4 separate regions of the Homo sapiens genome follow, and regions 1, 3 and 4 are each linked to region 2. The links come from fine-mapping of genetic effects on gene expression. Tissue or cell type: blood mononuclear cells. Region 2 holds a variant in brackets; each other region holds the start of a gene. Each region is shown on its reference strand, or each on the opposite one.

Region 1 (4,000 bases), not on the chromosome of region 2:
TTCCTTAAATAGGTCTCATCTCCCCCCCACCAATCAGATGGGAGCCCAGAGAAGAAAGGGTCCACGTATTCTTCCGTCAGACTAGGGACTGTGAAGACAGGAACTGCCTCTCCCATCAGAATGGAGGCTCTCTGAGGGCAGTAGTGTTGTCTCCTTTCTGCCTCTGAGAATGAAGATCCTGTGTTCTTTATTCAAGAGCCCATTCCAGGGTCGAGATCCTCTGCTGGCTGGAGTCCTCCTCTTCCAGGCACCCTCTGGGCTGGATTGGGGTTTCCTGCTCAAAGCCATTCTCGGTCCATCCTGATTCAGCACAAACTGCTCTCTTTTCTTCCCTTCAACAACTAACTTTCTGGGGTGTGTAGGGGGACCCTCCCTACATTGTGTCCAGGGGGTCACCAGACCCCTCCCACCCAACCCTCTCCTTCCAAAACTGAGCCTAGAAAAATTAGACACCAAACCCGCCCCCACTCTCACTCCCACACACACCCCGCACACTCTCTCACACACACACACACACACACACACACACACCCCCATTCAGCCAGGTAACTGCACAAGGGTGGGATTGAACCGGTTCCTCTGGATACCCTTCCCCCCAAGGCTTCCAATCCTGGAGAAGGAGCACCAATGACCTTTGACCCTTCTCTGGGAGAAAGGGAGGCAGGTGAGCTCACAGCCTCTTGGGACCCAGGAGAAGGAGAAAGGAAGAAAGGGCGCACAATTCCTGGGGAGGGAGCGGGAGCGGGAGCGGAAGGAAGTGAGGAGTAGGAAGAAGCAGAGACAGACACACAAACTGGCGGAGAGTCCACAGGGCTGCTGAGAAGAAAGAGATCACACCGAGAGTGGGGCCACGGGAACTGGCACTGGGAACAAGGGCTTCCGCCGCTCTAAGTGACGCCCGAGGGTGGGAGAGAAGGGAGAAGCCCTTCGGGCAGGCGATAGGAAAGGGCCCCTGAAGAGGAGAAAGCGACAGAGAGAAGTGCAACTGGGAGAGGCCGGGAAGAGGTGGATGGGAAAGGAGACTAGCGGTCGGGGAGGCAGTTGTGGAGCCAGAGAGGTGGTCCCCCCTTCCCATATCGCCGGCCGTCCACTGGCCCCAGGCTTGGGGTAGTCCTCAGGAGTCGGGCACCCCCTCAAAGCACTGTTGGAGATGGGGTGAGGTTGGGGACAGGGCACCTACTCCACTCTCAGAGCCCTTCTCCCCAGTCAGAGCCCGGTGGCTAGTTTCTCTCCAAACCATCAGCACAACTCCCCGCCGGGCAAGAAAGAGTTAAGCCCTCTCCCCCTCCCCCCACACCAGCTTTTTATTAATTTCTCCGGGCGTCGGGCGGGAGGGAGGGGATTAGGGCCATAAATCCTATCTCCGCCCCCTCCCCTGACAGCCCGGCACCCCAGCCCCGTGCGGTCCCCCTAGGGATAGGGGAAGAAAGGCCCTTGTCGCTTAGCCCTGCCCAACCCCACTCAGGGTCCCACCGCGGGCCCGAGTGGCCCTAGCCCCAGTTCCCGGTCCACCCCAGGGCGCCCGGCCCCTCACCTCCGGCATCGGTCATCTTCAGCGTCTGGCGCCCCGGGAACCCCTCAGGCCCATGGTGCTCGAGGCGGGGGCCGGGCAGGAGAGGGGTGGGGGGACCGTCACCCCGGCCGCGGGGGGCTCCGGGCGGGCTCGAGCCGCTCCATCCCGGGGGTGGGGGTGAGGTCGGCGGGAAGGGTCCCAGAGCCGGGGGAGATGGAGGGCGGGGGATGTGGGGAGAGGGAACAGGTTCGCTGGAAGCAGGAGGCGCGGGCGGGGCTGGACCAGGAGACCTGACGGGAGGATGCTCCGTGTGTGTGTGCGTGTGCGTGTGCGTGTGTGTGTGTGTGACAGAGAGAGAGAGAGAGAGAAGAGCGAAGAGCGAGCGCCACCTCCCTCCCCGCCCCTGCCGCCCGCCAGGCCTGGCCGGACGCGGGGCCCCCGCCTGGCAGGGCCGATTCGCGCGGCGTCGCGTCGGCAGGGGTCCGCGGGGGTCTCCGGGGAAGGGGCGTCGGGGTGGGGGGCGCGTGGCGGAGAAGCCGGGCGCCCAGGAGACAAAGAGCGGGAGGGAGCGAGGGGGCGGGGGCGGGGGAGGGCGGCGGGGAGGAGGCGGCTGGGGCCGGGGAGCGGAGTTGCAGCTACTTCTCTGCCCGCGGGAGACGCGGCGCACCGGAGTCTGCGCGGGTGGGAGCGGCTCCGGGGCGGTCCCGCCACGGGACCCACGGGGCTTCCGCCTCCTCTGCCGGGTCCATCAGGGCTCCCGATTAGTTCATTCATTCAACAAACGTCCGCCGAGCAGCCGGGGCGCCGAGGCTGGAGGGGACAGCGGTGAACAGAACCCCCGCCCCCTAACTGCGCTCAAGGCCAGTGGGCCAGTCGGGGGCTCAGACGAGTGGGGAGGCCCTCACGAGCCTGGGCGCCATGGGCCCAGCTAACAGAGGGCACTTCTTGCCGGAAGGGAGAGCGCACCCCTGGCCCGGCCTGGGTCCAGGCGGCCGCGGCGGGAGCTGGGCTGGGGGATTCCCAGAGGATGTGATGTGTTGGCTACAACTGCGGGCCAGGGTAGGGAAGTGCCAGGGGGTGTTGGGGGTGGGAGGGCAAGAGGGGAAGATAAATTGAAGCTGGGGAGGTGCAGGGGGCTTGCACTTTATTCTACCAGCCGCCCACCCCGCCGCCCACACACACACACACACACACACACACACGCGCGCGCGCGCACACACACAAAATTAAGAGGAGGGAGGGGCTCAGGTGTGCATTTAGGAAGCACCCTTGGCTCCCCTGGAGACAGGGTTACAGAGGGCACTCTGAAGGCAGGGAGACCCGCTGGAGGCTATTGAGGGCCGGTGGCAGTGGGCATAAAGATTACAGATTAAGCTGAGAGCCCTTCAGGATGCAGGCCTGAAGAAGCTGACACCGAAGAAGCTGACAGGATTTGGGGACCTGCTGGACTAGGAGGTGAGGGAGGAGGGGTCTAGGATGGCTGTGGACCTTGGCTTGAGGCAGGAAGCCCTGGAGCAGGTGGGGGTGGGGACGGATGAGATCAGACTTGGACCCAGTGCGCTGATGGTAGTGGCAGGCCAGCCAGGGAGGCAATGTAGGGATCCACAACCAGCTACCGCACGTCACAGCTTGGCAGGTGCCAGGCGCTCTCAGATCATCTATTGTCACCCTCACAATAAACCCACAAGGTGGGTGTTTCCATTACCCACTGCCTCAGAGAAAACAGAGACTTAGAAGAAGGAAAGTGCTTTGCTCAAGAGCAAGTGGTGAAAGGCCAGGCGCAGTGGCTCACGACTGTAATCCCAGCACTTTGGGAGGCCAAGGTGGGTGGATTACATGAGGTCAGGAGTTCGAGACCAGCCTGGCCAACATGGTGAAACCCTTGTCTCTACTAAAAATACAAAAATTAGTCAGGCATGGTGGCGCTACTCTGGAGGCTGAGGCATGAGAATTGCTTGAACCTGGGAGGTGGAGGTTGGAGTGAGCTGAGATTGTGCCACTGCCTTTCAGCCTGGCCAACAGAGTGAAACTCAAATCTCAAAAAAAAAAAAAAAAAAAAAAAAAAAAAAAAAAAAAAAAGGCAAGTGGTGAAGCTGGATCAGGGGTCTAGAGTCAGAGGAGAGGTGTGGAGTCTATAGGACAGAGTTCCCTGATGGCCCACAGGACTCTGCAGTCCGAGGCCTCCGGGAAGTGGCCTGTTGAACCAGGACAATCTTGTGACTATGAGTGAGGACAGAATTAACAGCCTTTAGGGTCTGAGGGTATCCTAGGGGATTTATAGGAGTTTGGGGGTCTCTGGGTGTCTTCAGAATCTTCTGGCAGCCATGAGGCTAGATTGTGGAAATCTGGGGAAGGGGTGGGGTTTCTGTTGACAGCTGTGGGGGCTGCATCTGGCTGTCTTAAAGGGGTTGTGCTTTGTAGGCATCTGGTGAGATCTGAGTGGTGGGCTGTAGTGGGGGGCTTGATTATATAGACCCTGTACATCCC
Region 2 (6,668 bases):
CTACAGTGTTAGACTGTGGGGGCCTCTCAGATATGATAGAGCTTTCAGTTCCTTCCAGCTGTTTACACACTAATTCCTGAACAAGGTGGACTTGCCAGGAAGGCTGAAACTAGTGACAAAGGGACATCAAATAGCTTATTTTCAAAGACACTGTGCAACATGCTCATCTGCCCTTTTCCTTCCCTTTAAAGGTTATTTCTTTCATTCCCTTCTCTAGGTTTTTGATTCCAGGTTAAACTCTACAAAAATGTTTTTTTCCTCTTAACTTGCCATGCTCACACCTAATGCCATTTGTATCAAAACTCTGTTTTCTTGAGGTGGGCCCCAAGGGGCTGACTTTTAAGGGAGGGGGCAGATTTTGCCTGATGTTTCTGCAAGATTAAACATGGTGCTTATCTGAAGTTCAAGGCTGATGATAAATTATAGACTCAAGAACTTTTTATTCAAAGAAGCCAAAGGAAGAAGGAAACTTCTCTGCTAGCTGCTCCACCAAAGGGGAGTCATGTTCTCCCCTCCTAGAGCCTTACAAGAGATAATTTTGAGAGCTCATTCTGGTTTAGAGACAATACATGGTGAACAAAGCTCATCTGTCATTGAGTGGGAGGTAGGGAGGAAAGAAGGTAAGAGAGAATTAAAATTGTAAAGCCAACATCATGTGGATTCCTCCTTGAACTTTAATAACCCAGTGCTGCCTGCAGGCTCAGAAAAACCAAATGCAATGGGTAGGTACAAGGATTGCTCTGGTGCCAGGAAAATGCAATAAGACATAACTTTTATAAGGTAGGCAATGAAAGAGTGCCCTGCAGGAACAAAACAGGCTTTTAACATCTCCAAAGTTGGCAGCCAGATGCCTGAAACATTGGTTTAGTGCATCCAAAACACACAACAGATAGAACCACTTTCTTTAAGATGAAGTCATCTTCCAGGAGAAACAATAGCTGGGAAGGCTGGGTTTTTATGATTCATGGGAGGAGGAGAATTTGATCTGTATTTTCTTTGCCACAGTCTATCCCATTTTAATGCATGTTAGAGGTTTTCCACATGTTAGGCAAATTTTCTAGAATGTTTTGAAAGGGAAAAAATTCTGCAGACTGCCTCAGTTACTGAAAGAGTTCTCTTTCTCCCCTGGCTGGGGAGGGATCCAGTTCTGTCTCACCGTGTTATCGAAAAGATCTGAAACTACAACTCTTCATTTGGATTCTGCTGTTATGAAATGCAGTTTGGGGTATCTTGTTACACTTTACTCCCAGAAGTGTTAAAGGAAGTGCCTGTCATCAAAATTCAAAAATAAATATAAAAATGATGCTGGCAGAGCTCAAAAACTAAAAGGATCAGCATTTTGCTTCAGTTTCCTGTTCATAAAACTTTATAAAAACAACCCACCCATTTAAAAAAAACCTGTAACAATAGTTCACTATTCTTTTCCTAAATGCTTGCCTCATGCCACTCTGAAATTAGGTGCCATCACGTTTCCTGAGTTATGGGCCCCAAACACCACATCCTTTTCCTCCCTCCCACACCCCCACCCCACCTGGCATCATTCCTGAATTTAGATGCTTCTCCAGTTTCTGAGCTCAGTAGACAGATGCCAACATTCTCCCTCCTACCTGTCCTGAAGTGGCCAAGCATCTGTACCAGCTGGAAGCAGGAATAATTGAGGCTTCCTTCCCCCAAATTAATTCTCACTTCCTAGAGAAGCTTTTAATATGGAAGGTTAAATTATAAAGTGAAGAGCTAGTAAACTGAAAAAGAATAAGATATTTCCCTCCCACTCTGCCTTTACAGCAAAATTTTCTTTGTGGAATACTCAACACTCTGTCCTTCTTTCTGGAAGAACATAGAATACAAGCTCTAGAACAAGCTTTTCCAACCCATGGCCCACAGGCTGCATGCATCCCAGGATGGCTTTGAATGTGGCCCAACATAAATTTGTAAACTTTCGTAAAACGTTATGAGACTTTTTTTTGCGATTTTTTTTAAGCTCATCAGCTATTGTTAGTGTTAGTGTATTTTATGTGTGGCCCAAGACAATTCTTCTTCCACTGTGGCCCACGGAAGCCAAAAGATTGGACACCTCTGCTTTAGAATGAGAAGCCTGGGTTCAAATACCAAGTTTTCACTTGCCAACTATATGACTTTGGACAGTTTACTTAATGATGACAAACATCAGTTTAAGCATCTATAAAATGGGGATATGAGAGTTTCAAGGTTTTAATGAGTTAAAAACACATGAATAATCCAATAAGATAATATGTATGTCAGATTTCTAAGCATACAGTTAGCACGTCATGCTATTATTAACCCTTCCGGTAAATAAATCATCCTTCTCCCTTTTTTTTTAAATGAATTAAGGAAAAAAGGTGGAATTTGGAGAACTTTTCCAACACTCCTTGCTTCCAAAGACATTAATTCTTTGATTTAATCTTATAATTTCAAAAAAGGATATGACTGTTGCACATATATAAAAGAAGCAGCAGAGTGAAGAGTGAACTGACCTAAATTAGAAGACATGGGCCAGGTGCAGTGGCTTACACCTATAATCCCAACACTTTGGGAGGCCAAGGTGGGAGGATCACTAGAGCCCAGGAGTCTGAGACTAGCCTGGGCCACAAAGTAAGACCTCATCTCTACAATAATAATAACAATTATTATTATAACAATTAGCCAGGCACAGTGGCATATGCCTATGGTGACAGCTACTCAGGAGGCTGAGGCAGGGTGATTGCTTGAGCCTAAGAGTTTGAGGCTGCAGTGAGCTATGATCGTGCCACTGCATTCCAGCTTGGGCAACAGAGCGAGACCCCACCTCTAAAAAAATTAAAAAAAAAAAAAAAAGAAGACATGGTATACAATCTGGCCCTACCATTAAGTCTGTGGTCTTGGGCAAGTCAAGTGATCTCTCTGAGACATAGATTCTTGAACCATATAACAAGGTGATTTAAACATAAATGTGTATGCTTCTGTGATTCTATTAAACAGCAAAGACTGAAGTGTATATGGAGTATTATCTTGATTTTATGCTATTTAATTTCAGGAAAGCTTTCAAATAAAAATTCATATCTTATGTACTGATGAAAGCACCCTGTCTAAAATTAGCATGTTTGGTATAGGCAGCCCACATTTTGGGTTGGTTCAGCATGGTAATATTTTATGAAGGCTCATCAGAAAATTAAGCTCAATGTACTCATTTGTCAAGAAATGCATATGCATATAGATTCTTTTAATATCAAATGGCAAAGCAAACAAGAGGTTGAAACAGAGGAAAGATCAACTATGAGAAAAGAATTACTGAGGGAAAATGGAGACAGACTACAAATGGGATAGAACTGGCCTAAAATATACCACTGTCACTTAAAAATAGGTACTCGGTTACATAGTGCCTGTGT[T/C]ATCTTTACAACAGCATTTGGTTCCTACACTGTCTTCTTCCTACAGGCCTGTTATGACTATGAGAGCTATCTGTTCCTTCAGTGGACCAAGTCTTGCTGCCTTGTGGATTCTGCCCAGTCACAGCTTCCCTTCTGCCCTTCAAGGGTGGGCTGCTTGCATCTAAGTGGTAGGGCCATACCTAATTCTGTTCTGGATATAACACAGATGACTGACTGGGCTTGGTGGCTGATGTCTATAATCCCAGTACTTTGGGAAGCTGAGGCAAGAGGATCACTTGAGGCCAGAAACTCAAGACCAGGCTGACCAACATAGTGAGATCCTGTCTGTACACAAAATGTAAAAATTTAGGAGGGCATGATGGTGCATTCCTATAGTCCTAACTACTTTAGAAGCTGAGGCAAGAGGATGGCTTGAGCCCAGGAGTTGGAGGTTACAGTGAGCTATGATTGTACCACTACACTCCAGCCTGAGTGACAGAGCAAGACTCTGTCTCTAAAAAACAAAACAAAAATACACATCTAGATGGTTGCTGGCATGAGATGCTAAACCACAGGCTTCTCAAAGCTGAGGGTTCTGTGCAACCCTGGCCAAACTTCTTACCCAAAATACTTACTTACATTAATGTTGTCCATTTATAAGAATTAGAACTAAAAACAAAGATACCTTGCAGCAACTTCTAAATAGTGCCCCATAAATAACAAATAGCACTAGAATTACTTAATAAATCATAATCTTCATTATTCTCTAGCATCTGTTTCCCCTACTAGATTGTACGCTCCAAAAGAATCATGAATCGCTTGTACAAGGCTACATCCCCATTGCCAAAAGATGCCTGGCAAGTGATGAGAGCTCAGTAAATGATGCTGAGAGCCGAAGAGGTGTTTGCTCTCTGCCAGGCACTGTGCTTTGACTTTAATGAAGTATCTCAAGTAATCCTTACAACAATCCTATGAAATGAGTACTTCTATAGTAGGAGAAACTGAGGCACAGAGAGTTCAAGCAACTTGCCCAAAGTCACACAGCTAGTAAGCAGCAGAGCTGGAGTTCAAATGCAAGCACCTTGCTTCTAGAACCTCAAGTTCCAATTCTGAAGCGGAACGTTAATTCACAGGCCAGTCACAAACCAGGGAGTCCTGAGGCCAGAGCCTATGATGCAAGGGTCAAGGATTTGAGCCTATATGATATGACTGAAAGAACACTGAATGAGAAGCAGTGCTGACTTGGGTCCAGTCCTGTGACGTTTTTGCTCACCAGCTTCCCCTGCTGATCAATCAGGGGGTTGGATGCTCACTCAAGTCCTTGTCAGGTGTCAACCCCAAGTGCTAGAGTCACCCTAGACATAATCTCACATCCAGAAAACTACAGAGCACAGTGTGCTCTTCCACCTTCCACGAGGGAGAACCACCAAAATATCAACCATCAAGCAAGTTACTCAGTCTCTCAGAACTTCAGTTTCCTCATCTGCAATCAGGACCAAATAGCACCTACTTCAAAGGGTGGAGGTGAAGATTAGAGAGAAACCTGGTTAAGGGGCTACCACATAGTAATAATTTCATAAACAGTAGCTAGGTTTATTATGGTCCCAAACAGAGCGAGGAGATAAGTCTGGAGGAGGAACGAATCTCTTCAAAACCCAGGAACCAACCAACCAGTTGGAAAGACAGCTCTGAAACTCAGATTTTTAAACAATTTCTAACAGTAGACTACATGTGTGGCACATCATCCAAGCAAAAAGTTCCATATCAGATTCTCTTTCAACAAATGGAGTAATAAAGACAGGTTTGAGTTAACTTCAGCTGGAACAGAAAGAACCATTATGACTTGGGAAGTTCACACCTGAGTGCTGAAAAGCTAGAAAATAATGTTAGGTGCCATTTGCCTTATGCCAGACCTGTGACAAGCATGTGACATATATTACCTTACTGAATCCTCACAACCTGCTGAAGAGGGTACTGCCCTGTTGTATAAATGAGGGCATGGAGGCTCAGAGAAGATAAGTAACTTGCTCAAGATCACACAGCTACTAAATAGCCATGCCAGAACTTACTTAGTCTGCCAGAACGTTGATGGTCTTAACCACAAAGCTACACCCTTCCCCAAAGATAGCGTGTCATTGGCCCCAGCATGCCCCGTACCCACAGGGCAATCATGTCCACACCATGGGCAAGTGGCTTTATAGGAAGGCCACGCATGGGGGATCAAGTGGCCTTGGGTTTTGGTCCCTGTTTACCCACAGACTGTGGCAGCTATGGACAAGTCATTTAACTTTCCTGGACCCTGTTTTGATCAAACAGAATGTACTGGATTAAAGTTTTTCAGTCCAAGTCTTGTGGAACATTAATCACTTACATTTTATACCCGAGAGGTTAGGGATAAAAGAGGAGCCAAAGACATAATGAGCTAACCCTCTGTCCTGGGACTCTGGCTAGGGGAAGAAGTGGAACACATTTGTTACCAAACAGAACTGGGTGACCCTCAGTTCCCTTCTATCTTGAAAATTCTGAAACTCTACTGAAAATTCTGAAATTCTCCTGAAAATTCTGAATTTTATGTGACAGGAGAGGACAAAGAAGAAAAGGACTTCAGGGAGTCATGTGGGAGGTGGCAGGGTGGCCATCTCAAAGCTATGTTTGCACAGCGACTACAGTGTACATGCTTAGCTGGTAAGCTTATTTGAGGTGCTTCTGGAGTGAGGGGGCTGGTGGAGATAATGGGAAAGGAAGCTAAATTCCTCCTCTTGAAATGACTAGTATTGCATACAGCAAGCACTCTATAGATGCTGATAGAACTGAATTCAAAGGAAAAAAGACCTGGATCAAACTGATAGAAGTTGAGCTGCTGCTCAAGATGTATGAATATCTCAAAAATGCTAACAATTGCTTTTGTTCTCAGCCACCCACCCTGCCATAAGCCATTTTCAGTCTCAAGATCAATTCTTTTTCGTGAGAATGAGCATACCTCTTTCAGCAGGATAACCACAGGTAAACCTCCCCCTGCACCCCCTGCTGCCATCCTACGCGCTTGGAATATGAACAAAGGTGAACTGTCTGGCTGATAAAGAATTCTGCTTGTTTTCATTTGTATCTTTGCCCAGGGTCGTGGCAAATATTGTTTCATGGGTTTCCAGCTTTGTTTTTGGAGCTCAAAGGATAAAGTGCTCCCACAAGAAAGAATAAAGAGAGAGGAAAGAAGGTAACGAAAAAAACTATTTCATTCAAACAGCAGAAGTCCTTTCTTCCCAGGAAAGGTGACAGTATGCTACATCCTCTGTCTGAGCTGCC
Region 3 (6,668 bases), not on the chromosome of region 2:
GTAAACAGAATTCTATTCAGGACCAGAGAAATAGATTGTGTAGCCTTTTGCGATCTCAGCCATGACTGGGCACCACCATCAGCACAGGTGTAATCAGGTAAATAATTGGTTATGCTATCTGCGAGGATTTCAGAGATACAAGATTCCTACTTGTTTCCATTGTTAACAAGTCCTTCCAATCCAATGATAGTGATAAGAATAACAATTCAAATTACTTGAAACTTCTGTGTGCAAGATAATATTTCAACTTTTTTTTTTTTTTTTGAGATGGAGTCTCACTCTGTTGCCCAGGCTGGAGTGCAGTGGCACTATCTCAGCTCACTGCAACCTCCATCTCTCAGGTTCAAGTGATTCTCATGCCTCAGCCTCCTGAGTAGCTGGGATTATAGGTGTGTGCTACCATGCCCAGCTAATTTTTGTATTTTTAGTAGTGAAGGGGTTTCACCATGTTGGCCAGGCTGGTCTTGAACTCCTGACCTCAGGTGATCCACCCACTTCAGCCTTCCAAAATGCTGGGATTACAGGCGTGAGCCACCACACCCAGACAATTTTTCAACTTTTTAACAAAAGTTCTCTCTTTTAGAGTGGATATGTAAAGAGGTTACTGGATATTTGAAAGATGGGGAAATTTTGCCCCAAAAGTTAGCAAAGCAGAATATAAGAATGAGTTGTACTACAGTCTCCCCAGTACTTTTGTTCTCATGCAGGAGAAATTTGGGGCAAAATTTCCCTCACTGCTGTGGATCATGGACATTACCTATAACAGAAGTGCATTTAATACTTTTGTAATTGCTGAACCTCAGTGAGAAAGAGTAGAAGTTAATTGAATTCCTCCCTTCTAGAATTTTCATTAGTCAGGGCTTCTTGGAGAGTTTGTTTTTGGCTGTATTCTAGCAGAGAAATGCCAGATACAGGGCTGGTCAGGGAAAGCCACTGGCCCAAGTAAGGAGAAAGCATATGCAGTGTCCTCAGTGATGAGGTATCTCTTGAACAATAATTTGAAAATTATTTTAGTCTCCAATATTACAGCTAGAGAGACCTTATAACTTATCACCCAAACATGAACTCTTTTGAAGACTGAAGGGTTCTATTAGTAATTGTGTCAGAACAGCAGGAGTAAACTCGCAGTCCTGTGCAAACTGAGATATGCAGTGACCCTAATTATATAGACTGAGGGTATTTTCCAACACTTGTTAATTCAAGGAAATTGTGAACTTGTGAAATCTCTTTTTATGGATTCCATTTGTTCTGCTTTTCAGAATTCCTATAATGAGTGGCAACTCTTTTTGATTTTTTTTTGTCAATAAGATGCCGAATGCCCAATGCCCTTGCATTCCAGTCTTTAGAAAATGTCCATGTAGATTAATGTAGATCCTGTTTTAAAAATTTGTTGAGATAAAAGTCTAAATTCATATAAGATTGTTTCAGTTATAAAGTCTAAAGCAATGCTTGTCTTTATAGTAAAACATACAGTATGAATATGTCCTCACTTAAAGTTATTATATAATACATAATAATCTTTATTAATAATAAAAAGCATTATATTTGTTAAAAATTAGAAAAAGCAAGGATAAAGTTAAATATCAAAATCTGATTTTTCTCCCTCTTTCCATTTCCATTCCCCAGAAGTAACAGCTTTTAACACTTCTGTATACTTCCAGGTAATTTTATACATATATGAATACTGACCAATATGATTATATTCCCTTATGTAAACACATGGAAGCATGCTAAATACATGTTCAGAAACTTGTTTTTTTCCTTAAGGATTTGAATGTTTTTGTACATGTATATCTATATCTGAATTTATATCTATACCACATTCCTAATTTTATTGACAGCTGCATAGCATGTCAATAATATGCAGCTGTCAATAATATGCAGGGACTCATTTGAGAGGCTATAAAAGCTTTCCCTGCCATTTTATACTGAGAACTGTAGAATAAGTGAGCAAAATTGAAATACATATTGAATAATAGTTTAAAATTTATGATCCTATCCTTAAATTGACATTTTTACACTAACAAAATTATAATAAAACAATAGAGGGTGGTGGTAGCAAGATAGATGATTTGGAAATTTTTAACTGGTAGCATTGACTTATATTAGTACTTAGCAAATTTAGGGCTCTGAACAGCCTCTGCCCCGAATGTCTCAGAGTTCCTGTGTCATATGATACTTTCATTCACATTGCTGTGTGCCATTATACCAGGTAATTTACATTAAAGATCACATTTATACTTCACATCAGATAGTTATTATTATCTCTGTTGTTAAAGTTGATGGTATTGGAGTTGTGGAGAGAACAAGATAAATATTACCTCACAGAGTCATTTTTTATTGGCAACCCCAGGACATTTAAAGTTCTGAAAATCATACATAATTTTTCTCTGAGCATCAGAAGATGACTACAGTTCCTTTTGTCTACACTTTGTACCACTATCCCAGGAAGGTATTATTATACTCATTTTATAGGTGAGGAGCTTGAAGCTCACAAAGAGTAAGAAACATTCCCAGGAGGATGTAACTAATGACTTATGTAGTAGGGACATGGACCCAGACTTGTCTGCCTCCAAATTCCATGCTACTAATATCTTTTTATTCTAATTTGATAAGGTCTTAGAAGGCAAAAGATGTTTCCCTGAGATGTGTCTAATAGCTTGCTACAGCCTATATGCATAGTTTTTGAGGCGGTCTAAATAATTTTAATTGTTTCACATCGTATGTTCCCATTCATAAGTGGGAACTAAGCTATGAGGAATGACACAATGGACTTTGGGGACTGGGGGGAAAGGGAAGGAGGGAGCTGAAGGATAAAAGACTACACATTGGGTACAGTGTTCACTGCTCAGGTGGTGGGTGCACCAAAATCTCAGAAATCACCACTAGAGAACTTATTCATGTAACCAAACACCTCCTGTTCCCCAAAAACCTATTGAAATAAAAAAAAATTTAAGAAACTAACAAATTGTTTGTTTCAGATGACAAGGCAGTTTCCTTAACATTGAGAAATTAGAGTGAAAAAAATGTGTTAGAGATTATGACCGAATCTAATAATAGCTATCTATGTGGACAGTATTACAAAAATTAACCAAATGACAAAAAATCAAAGAAGAAATTTTGTGAAAGTTGTTTAAAATCAGGAATCTACTTTTTACATTTTAGCTTTCACTTTTGCAGTGATGATACAGATATAGAAAGATTAAATTTTAGAAATACTTTGGTAATTATGAGCATTTTCAACTGTATATTTTTCATGTAATAAAACAAGCAATATCAATTCTGTAAATATCTTCAAACAGGTAGTAAAATGACTATAAGTAACTGAAATAGTTAACAAATATGTGTTAATTGACTTCCTGAATTTTTCTGTTTCAGGAAACCAAGAGTTGAAACATTAATCATGAATTGGGTAAATGACAGCATCATACAGGAGTTTATTCTGCTGGGTTTCTCAGATCGACCTTGGCTGGAGTTTCCACTCCTTGTGGTCTTCTTGATTTCTTACACTGTGACCATCTTTGGCAATCTGACCATTATTCTAGTGTCACGCCTGGACACCAAACTTCATACCCCCATGTATTTTTTTCTTACCAATCTATCACTCCTGGATCTTTGTTACACCACATGTACAGTCCCACAAATGCTAGTAAATTTATGCAGCATCAGGAAAGTAATCAGTTATCGTGGCTGTGTAGCCCAGCTTTTCATATTTCTGGCCTTGGGGGCTACTGAATATCTTCTCCTGGCCGTCATGTCCTTTGATAGGTTTGTAGCTATTTGTCGGCCTCTCCATTACTCAGTTATCATGCACCAGAGACTCTGCCTCCAGTTGGCAGCTGCATCCTGGGTTACTGGTTTTAGTAACTCAGTGTGGTTGTCTACCCTGACTCTCCAGCTGCCACTCTGTGACCCCTATGTGATAGATCACTTTCTCTGTGAAGTCCCTGCACTGCTCAAGTTATCTTGTGTTGAGACAACAGCAAATGAGGCTGAACTATTCCTTGTCAGTGAGCTCTTCCATCTAATACCCCTGACACTCATCCTTATATCATATGCTTTTATTGTCCGAGCAGTATTGAGGATACAGTCTGCTGAAGGTCGACAAAAAGCATTTGGGACATGTGGTTCCCATCTAATTGTGGTGTCTCTTTTTTATAGTACAGCCGTCTCTGTGTACCTGCAACCACCTTCGCCCAGCTCCAAGGACCAAGGAAAGATGGTTTCTCTCTTCTATGGAATCATTGCACCCATGCTGAATCCCCTTATATATACACTTAGGAACAAGGAGGTAAAGGAAGGCTTTAAAAGGTTGGTTGCAAGAGTCTTCTTAATCAAGAAATAAGAAATATGCAAATGATAAGCTTTGCTAAAGACAAAATGTTTACTTAGCTTACTAACTTCTCTGTAAGTTGCCCTATTTTTGTTGTTACTGTAGAGAACAATGTAAACTCCCTCAAATAAAATTTCCTTGATGAAGAGCTATATTTACTTCTGTTGCCTTAATGTTTTCATTGAACAAGCCCCCAGAATTGACCTTCCAATTCACCAAAAATTGTAATCACAACATCTTCAAGGTTTGTCAAACATCCCATCAATGCTTGTACAATTCAATGTAAATTAGATCCGTAGAAAAGCCAGAAGTTCTTTCTCCAATATCACACACACACACACACACACACACACACACACACACTAGTTAAACGAGGCTCACTGAAACTCTCAAACCCCACCACTTCAAATTTGGATCTGAGGTTAACAATTCTAATTTTAAATTTTCCACTCCCGCATCAGCATAAGGAAATCTATAATAATTTTTATTCTAAAATTGTAACCAGATTTTCCATTTTCTTACCATATTTCTGTACTCATGTTTTTCCTACTAAATGAAGGCATTCTTTTTACTTCCTTTGCAAATCAAACCCTAGATATTTATTAGGTCCAGCTAATTTTCTTTTACATGAATTTTTTTTCATAATTCTCCCAACTATCAATATTATCTACCGTTCTCTTAAACCCTAAAGCACTTAACAGCTTAGATTCCAAAATAGCACATTATGTAATGATTTCCAAAGAGTTCTTGTTTAGTACTTTTGTCTTGCATAATAATAGTCTAATTATATTTTATTCTTGAGGGTACAAAAACTATACCATACATTTTACCACAACACCTTTAGAAGTCATCATAGTGCTGAGGAAGTAGCATGCATTTACATTATTAGTTGATTCTTTTGATTGTTGAGTGATTCATTTACATTATAATAATTTAACAACCTTGCTACCCTTCTTTATCCATTGTTTTCTTCTACTAATGCATTATACATGTAGAAAATACAATAGCTTAAAATATATTTATCATGTTTCTTATGAAAACCTACAGTAACTCCATGTACTTTTGCCATAATAAAATGTTAACAGAGAAATAAATCTGGTTTGCCAAGTTCTGACTTCAGTTTTCTCTCCTAATAGGGATAATTATCATAAAAAACATACATGGAAGCAAAATACTGATAAAGTATATTTAAAGCTTAAGACAATAATTTTCTCACTGAAAATTAATTCATTGCTAAAGGTCCAAATAAATGACAGATCAGATTACTGGAGACAAATGTGTATCTCAAAGCCAATGTCAGTGTAGTTTGGTGAATTATGAGGACATAGAAGAGAAAACAGAATTCCAGAAATTGAAATAGTTAATTTTTAAATTGAGAGGTTAATTGATTTAATTAATTTTATAATTGTAGATTTGGTTTTTAACTAGTATTTATATTGGTGTGCTGGTGTATAATTTTATACTGGTAACTTCTGTAACTAAGCTATTATCAGTTACCTTGAGAATATAAAAAATATATTAATTATTCATATAGAACAAGACATATTAAACTATCTCTCCTTTTTTGCAATTCTGAGAAATTTATTTTTCTAATACAAACCACTTTTAAGTTTTTAAGTGGTTTGTATTTTAAGGAGAATGTATTTTGGATTTTTTTTATACTTGTAGTAAAATATACATAAAATTTGCTAGTTTAACCATTTTTAAGTGTACAGCCAGTGGCATTAAGTGCATTCACATTGAGCGTCAATCTCCAGAATTTTTTCATCTCCTGAAACTAAAACTCTGTACCCATTAAACAATAACTACCCATATTCCATATTCTGTCCCCACCAGCCTCTGGTAACCACTATTCTATTTTCCATCTATGATTTTGAATACTCTAGATACCTCATATGAATGAAATCATAGAGTGTTTTTGCTTTGTGGGTTATTTCACTTAGCATAATGTCTTTAAGGTTCATCCATGTTGTAGCATGTGTCAGAATTTCTTCCCTTTTTAAGACTGAATAATATTCTATTGTATGTATATACCACATTTGGTTTATCTATTCATCAGTTGATAGGTACTTGAGTTGCTTTCACCTTTTGGCTATGTTGAATAATGCTGCCATGAATATCGGTGTATAAATATCTGTCTGAATTCCTGCTTTCAGTTATTTAGGGTATATACCCAAAAGTGGAATTGCTAGATCATACAGTAATTCTACTTTTAATTTTTTGACAAACTGCTATACTGTTTTCTGTAATGGTGGCATCATTTTTCATTCTCACCAACTGTCCACAAGGGCTATAATTTCTCCACATAGCTCATTTTAATAAAGTTAATTTTTAT
Region 4 (6,668 bases), not on the chromosome of region 2:
CTGTTGGTAGTTTCTGGTGCCTGTGGTGGAATGACAAGGACACTAGCATAAGTGGCTTGTCTTCCATGGGCCAGGCTTGTGCCTAAGACTGGTCTTCCTAACACAGATGGTCCACCAGGGTGGTTGATAGGCTTCGGTCTGTCTAGAAGCACCATGCTGCTCCTGTGCTTCCAACCCAGGAGGACGCATCACACCCCCACACCACAGGGAGTTCCACGCCAGGGCAGCGTGAGAATCAGACAGACCTGGGTTCTGCCCCCTACTCAGCCACTTTCTAGCTGGGTGGCCTTGGGCAAGTTTGCTGCCTCTTCTGAGATATAAGGTCCTCAGGAGAGGGGTTGTTGTGAGGAGGAAATGGGATAATGAAGGAAAAACCTGAAGCCACAGCATCACTTGAGGCATGTTCAGCTTGCTCTTGGAATTTGGTTCCCTCATTCTCCCCAAGCCAGGTCAGAGGCCTCCAGGCCACTGTCTCCAAAGGCCCCTCTCAGACAAGAGCACTGACCCAAGGCCTCTCTCGAGCAGTCTGCTCACCTGAACGGCCCATGAGAGACAGTCTGCCATTTTAGCCTCTAACACCCACTGCTTTCTGAAGCAACAAGGCCTACCTTCTAAGACACCTGCATTAGTGGAGAGATATCTGCCATCCTGGCAAGGCAGCTGGGACCCCAGATTCAGACCGCCAAGAGTCTTGGGCCTTCAGTAGTCGGAGTCCTGTAATGAGACAGAAGCAAGAGCTCAAAGGCTCCCGCGATGCAGCCTTGGCCCAGAAGAGGATTTCCCTGTGGAAAACTGCTGGAGTGCCACCACAAGGCTGTGGGACAATAGAGAAGGGCCCGGGAGGAAGGAGTGGAGAGAAAGGGGGAGAAACAGAAGGTAAATCTCTGGAAGGACAGTTGGGGAGGAGATACGTGTATGGGCTTCGGGAACAGAGGAAAAAGGGTTTTGCTTGAGTGACCTTGGCCAAGTGTTTAAAATCTGTGTTTGTTTGGCTGCCAGAATGGAGGGAGTGACACTTTCTCTTGTGCAAAAGGTATGCTCTGGGCCCAAAGATTCAGAGGGGTGTTCCTAAGGAAGGCCAGGTGGCTCACCAGACAGGCATTTCCTTTCATCAACTCACCACAGTCCAGAATCTGTGCATGGCCTGAGAAGCTCCCAGACCTGATTTATTGGCATATGGATGGTTCACGTCTCAGGAGTTAGAGTGTCCAAGAGCACAAGAACTGGAGCATAAATCCCAGAAGGCCAGGGAGCAGACTTGATGGGTACAATGGCTCAGGGAGTATCTCCCACCCAGAGGCTTGGCATCCCAGGGACCTATGGAAGTGTCTTGCTTGTGAAGCTTGGAATAAGAGTCTATGACTTGCTTTATTGATCTTAATCAGGGTCCCCTGTCTAAGTGGCTTGTGGGCCTCTCACCATCCTTCCACAGCATTGCCACAGAAAGGTAGGTCTCTATTTGGTTAGCCTCCCTGTGTTCTCTTCAGTGTTTGGGCATCACCAAGTTCTTTGGGTTTCCTTTTCCATCCTACCAGGCCAACCACTTGCCTTCTGTTCTCCCTGCCTTTCCCAAAAGAATGGAAAGCAAATTGCTTGGTTTCCACTTTGTAATTACACTCCTTTTGGGAATGTCTCCCTGGTCACCTTGAATGGCACTGGAGGTAGCGGGGAGGGAGTCTCAAACTCTTAAGTCACATCTTCACAGACTGATTTTTATTTCACTGTAAGTGGCTGTTCTCACCCATTGTGTAAAATCTAAAGAGTCTCGTTCTCAAATGGAAACTTTATTTTCCATACCTTCATGCTCTGGGTAGGGGAGCCCTCATTATCATGTATGGATAACATTTTCTTCACAGGGTGGAGGTGAGGATTAAATGAGATAGTGGCATGGGTGTGCATTTGTATTTGAGTTCTTAGGCCAATGTCTCACAAATCACTCAATAAATCACCATCCTACAACTCCTACCCACCACATGACCAATATGTGAGAAGGGAAGAACAAACACAAGAGCCTCAGCATCTTAGTCTTTGCCAGAAATAAAGCTGGGCTATGGAATAGGAAGGAAGAGGAAGCTGAGGAACAGACATACAGTTTTGATATTTGTCCCCGCCCAAATCCTCATGTTGAACTCTGATCCCCAATGCTGGAGGTGGGGCCTGGTGGGAGGTGTTTGGATTATGGGAGTGGATCTCTCATGGCTTGGTGCTGCCTTTGCGATAGTGAGAGTGAATTCTTGTGAGAGCTGGGCATTTAAAAGTGTGTGGCACCACCCTTGCCACTCTCCCTCTCTTGCTCCTGCTCCCCCTTTGGCTTCCACCATGATTGTAAGCTCCCTGAGACCTTCCCAGAAGCCAAGGAGATCCCAGCACCATGCTTCCCATGAAGCCTGCAGAACTGTGAGCCAATGAAACCTCTTTTCTTTAAAAATTACCCAGTCTCAGGTATTTCTTTATAGCAATGCAAAAAACGGCCTAACACAAACAGTTAGTGAAAGAGGGGAGCTACAGCTCAAATTTTCTCTATTCAACACAAGATCTTTATTGCGTCTCTCCCCCTGGGCTAGACACTGTATTACAGCACCCGTCCTTAAGAAACATAATGAGGTCTAGACACATCAAAAATCCAACTATGTAATCTAAGTGTCAAGGTCTGTGGATATAAAATGGGGTCCCATTTACTTTTATTGTCCACATGACAATGACTTGGGCTCCCACCTCATCCAACCTTCCTTACAAAAGGCATTTCCCAGTTATTTGGAGCAGTCCCCAAGGGCATATCTTATATGCTCTTAAAACAACCCACTTATTTACAATCACCACACAACATCCATCATATTCTCCCTCTCCTATTTCAGGTGCCCTGTCCCATGTCACAGCCCTGGTAGCATCGGAGGGAGATTCTTAGATGCCCCTTCTGAAATCACCAGTGATCTTCGGAGGGTACCATCTCCTGATGCTCTCAATATCACCACTATCTAGAGCCCCAGATCTATGTCGGTGTCACATTTTGTCTCCTGGGCCCCAAAGCAGCACTGTTTGAGCTCGGAGTCCATAAATTATCTCACCAAGAAGACTTCAGACCTCCCATTCTTCCCCTCTATGCCTCACTCCCTGCAAGCAACTTCCCATGCCCTAACCCAGTGAGGGCGTATGTGGAAATAGCCAGCCAGCTAACCTATGCAGCTGTTGATCAACCATGCCTACCAACCAGAACAGTAAAATGGTTTTGCACCTACCTGGCTTTGAAGACAAGCAGTCCTGGGTGCCAGAGTCAGCAGCGCTCCTGTTTATTAACTATTTGACTTAGGTATACCATATCTTATACTCTGAGCTGGTTTCTTCATCTGTAAAATTGAGATAATCATGGTAGCGGCTTCAGAGAGCAATTGTAATAATTACTTGACATAAATCATGTAAAGCACTACTTCCCAAACTATTTCCCATAATATATGCCAGTGGAGGGCTCCTGTTAAATCTATGGGTTCCAGGACTTTACACCAAGCCTAGTGAATCAGATCTTCAGGGAGGGGCTCAGAATCTGTATGCTGAATGAGTGTTCCAAGTGGTTCTTTTGACCTTATGGGAAATGCTCAGTAAATAGTAGCTTTGCAAAGTCACAATTTACATTACCAATATCTATAGTCAGTTTAACAATGATGTCACAATTTCCATCAAGAACAATGAGTACAATGTTTTACTTCTGGATAACAAAAGGGCCATTCTGAGATTTTTTTTCTTAAAGCAGCAGTCTCCTCCAAAGGTAAATTAAGGTCTGTAAATTTAGATTCAGAAAATGATCTGTAAATTTTATTTTATCTTATTTTATTATTGTTTTATTTTTTGAGACAGGGTCTCACTCTGTCACCCAGGCTCAACCTTCTCATTGCAGCCTCAACCTTCCAGGCTCCAGTGATCCTCCCTCCTCAGCCTCCTGAGTAGCTGGGACTACAGGCATGTGCCACCATGCCCGGCTAAGTTTTGTATCTTTAGTAGAGACGGGGTTTTGCCATGTTGTTCAGGCTGGTCTCGAACTCCTGGGTTCAAGCAATCCTCCTGCCTTGGCCTCCCAAAGTGCAGGGATTACAGGCATGAGCAACCACACGGGCCCATAAATTTTAAATGAGCACTTATCCTGCTTTTACCTACTAATGTTTCAAAAACTTTAGGGACTGATCATATACAGGTAGCCCTATTATATCATATTCTCTGTAGGGTCCTGCATACAATAATCATCTTCAGAATTATGTTAGATTCACATACACAATGTCAACACATGTACAATTTTTGAAATACACCAGACTCAGAAACATAACCCTTGCAAACCTTGGGAAGTGTTCATATATGTTTTTATTACTCAATTTTTTCATCCTCTTAAATCTTCCACCCAACTGTGATCAATCAAGGCTATCCTTTATAATCATGGACTTTTCTGTGATCTTTTCTACAAAAACTTTCATCTCATTTCTGAAGCATCACTTCTCTTCTAATATTGTCTTGTTTTCCAACTCATTACACTGATACCTTCTCCTCAGTGTGAAATTACTGACATCGATGAGGTGTGAATTCACCCTCCTGGGTTCTGCTCCTGTACGAGTTCTCTGGAGAACCATGAGTCATGGCTTCCAGATGAGACCCTTTGCCCATTTTTGTCCATTGACTTATTGGAGTAAGCTGTCGATAAGAGTTTCTCTATGTCAAATGAGGGTTGAGCTATATTTGAAGGTTTACCCATGTTTTGTAGACTACAAGCCTTTTTCATACGAATCTTCTGATGTTCCAATTCCCTTTTGAGGTGGTCTCTGGTATCTCCACTGGCCTTTTATTTATGCATTTGCTTTTGAGAGGGGCTCACCAAATTGCCCTCCACAGACCTACTGGGGGGGCCCTGCTGGCCCCTTCCACCCACCCAGATCACAGCAGAAACATTGAAGGCAAAACTTCCAACTTGGATCCCTTCCAGGAATAATAGTAATATCAACTATTCTGCATTCTGCTCAAAGCTCTATCTAAATCATCCCATTTAATCTTTAAAATGGCCCTTCAAAGTGGATATTATTACAATACTCACTTTAAATGTTTGGTTCAAAGAACTTAAACAACTTGTTCAAGGTCATTGAGCCAGTAAGTAGCAGAGCCTGATCCTTTGGACACTAACTATAGCTTCCAGTCTCCGTACTGTTGCCCCAATTCCCTCTCACTTTTCATCTTCTTCCTAGTGACTTAATGGGAGCCCCAATCTTGCCAAGGGGAAGTCCATAGTCTTTAACACTTTCAGCCCAGCTTGGCACCGAGACCTTGCCCAGCCCAGCTGGACTTGCATGACAGAGAGGCTTTATTCTCCAGTCCTGTGTTCCTCCACAGCCATTCTCTGAAGGATGAGGTCATTCTTCATAGAATTACTTTCTGCTCCTCCAGCCATACTCCCCTAACTGCAGCGCCCCTCAACACACTGTAGTCTCCCAGTTCCAATTATCATCACCAGGCTGAGTGGGCCCTTGGAGACACCTCCAGGAAGGAGAGGACTAAGTTAAAGTCCAGGCAGCAAAGATACTGTATTATCTATCTCTGTATAACAAATTACCCCAAAGTTTAATAGTTTAAAACAAAAAACGTTATTATCTCCCAGTTTCTACGGGGCAGGAATATGAATGAGTCTTAGCTGGATGCCTCTGGCTCAAGTTCTCTGAAGAGGCTGCCATCAAGCTGTTGGCCAGGAACATGGACTCATCTGAAGACTCAACTAGAGCTGAAAGCTCCAATCCCAAGCTTGCTCACGTGGTTGTCATCAGGCGTCAGTTCCTTATGAGTTATGAGGCTAAAGATCTTAGTTCCTCGTCACACCACATAGGCCTCTCCAAAAGACCACTCACAGTATGGCAACTTGCTTCCTCTACCACATGTGATTCAGGAAAGACAGCAAGAGAGAGCACACCCAGGGTGCAAACCACAGTCTTTTTATAACCTATCTCAGAAGTGCCGTTCTATCATGAATACTGCATTTTATTTGCCAGAAGTGAATCATTAGTCACTTAGTGGAAGGAAATTACACAAGAGCACAAATAACAGGAGATGGAGATCATTGCCAGAGCAGGGGTTGCAGGGTGGTCGGGACTTGGTAATCCCACTGCAGGAAAAGCCATTTAAAGCCTTGGCCCAGTACTTGCATCTCAGGATGTCAAGAATAAGAGATCATGGCTGAGCATGGTGGCTCACACCTGTAATCCCCACACTTTGGAAGTCCAAGGTGAGAGGATTGCTTAGGCCAGGAGTTCAAGACCAGCCTGGGCAATATAGCAAGACTCTGTCTCTACAAAAACAAATGTTTTAATTAGCCAGGATATAGTGGTTCATGCCTATAGTTCCAGCTACTTGGTAGGCTGAGGCCAGGGGATCATTTGAGCCTAGGAGTTGGAGATTGTAGTGAGCTATGATGGTACTACTGCACTCCTGCTAGGTGACAGAGAGAGAGAGAGACACTATCTCAAAACAAAAAAAAGAAAAGAAAAGAAAACCAAAATAAGAGATCATGATCTCAGTAACTGAATCCTGTGGAGAAGAAAGAATGGGGTTCTTTGTTTCCAGTATTGGCTCTGCCACTATTTGATTTGCAAATCTGGCAGGTCACTTGGCTTCTCTGACCCTTGGTTTTCCTCCAACGAATGAACCCC

The links. PIP is the estimated chance that this variant, and not a neighbour inherited with it, causes the effect.
Region 1: SAMD14 starts here. The variant in region 2 is fine-mapped to the expression of SAMD14 in blood mononuclear cells (TOPMed, PIP above 0.99).
Region 3: it holds the start of OR2B6, and the variant in region 2 is fine-mapped to the expression of OR2B6 in blood mononuclear cells (TOPMed, PIP above 0.99).
Region 4: it holds the start of LINC01992, and the variant in region 2 is fine-mapped to the expression of LINC01992 in blood mononuclear cells (TOPMed, PIP above 0.99).

Annotation. Positions count from the first base shown.
Region 1 is chr17:50,127,983-50,131,982 of GRCh38, forward strand. SAMD14 (sterile alpha motif domain containing 14) reads right to left here and starts at 2,178. Exons shown (of 10, transcript NM_001257359.2): 1 at 1,535-2,178. RefSeq lists silencers at 1,894-1,953, 2,194-2,273.
Region 2 is chr3:56,812,335-56,819,002 of GRCh38, forward strand. It overlaps a transcript of ARHGEF3 not described here. Among named protein-coding and RNA genes, the nearest start is that of ARHGEF3, 14 kb to the left of the region's middle. The variant T/C (reference allele first, on the strand shown) is at 3,387.
Region 3 is chr6:27,953,838-27,960,505 of GRCh38, forward strand. It overlaps OR2B6 (olfactory receptor family 2 subfamily B member 6), which reads left to right and starts at 3,404. Exons shown (of 1, transcript NM_012367.1): 1 at 3,404-4,345. The coding sequence starts at 3,404. The coding sequence ends at 4,345.
Region 4 is chr17:27,988,157-27,994,824 of GRCh38, forward strand. LINC01992 (long intergenic non-protein coding RNA 1992) reads right to left here and starts at 3,551. Exons shown (of 5, transcript NR_146896.1): 1 at 3,237-3,551; 2 at 609-714.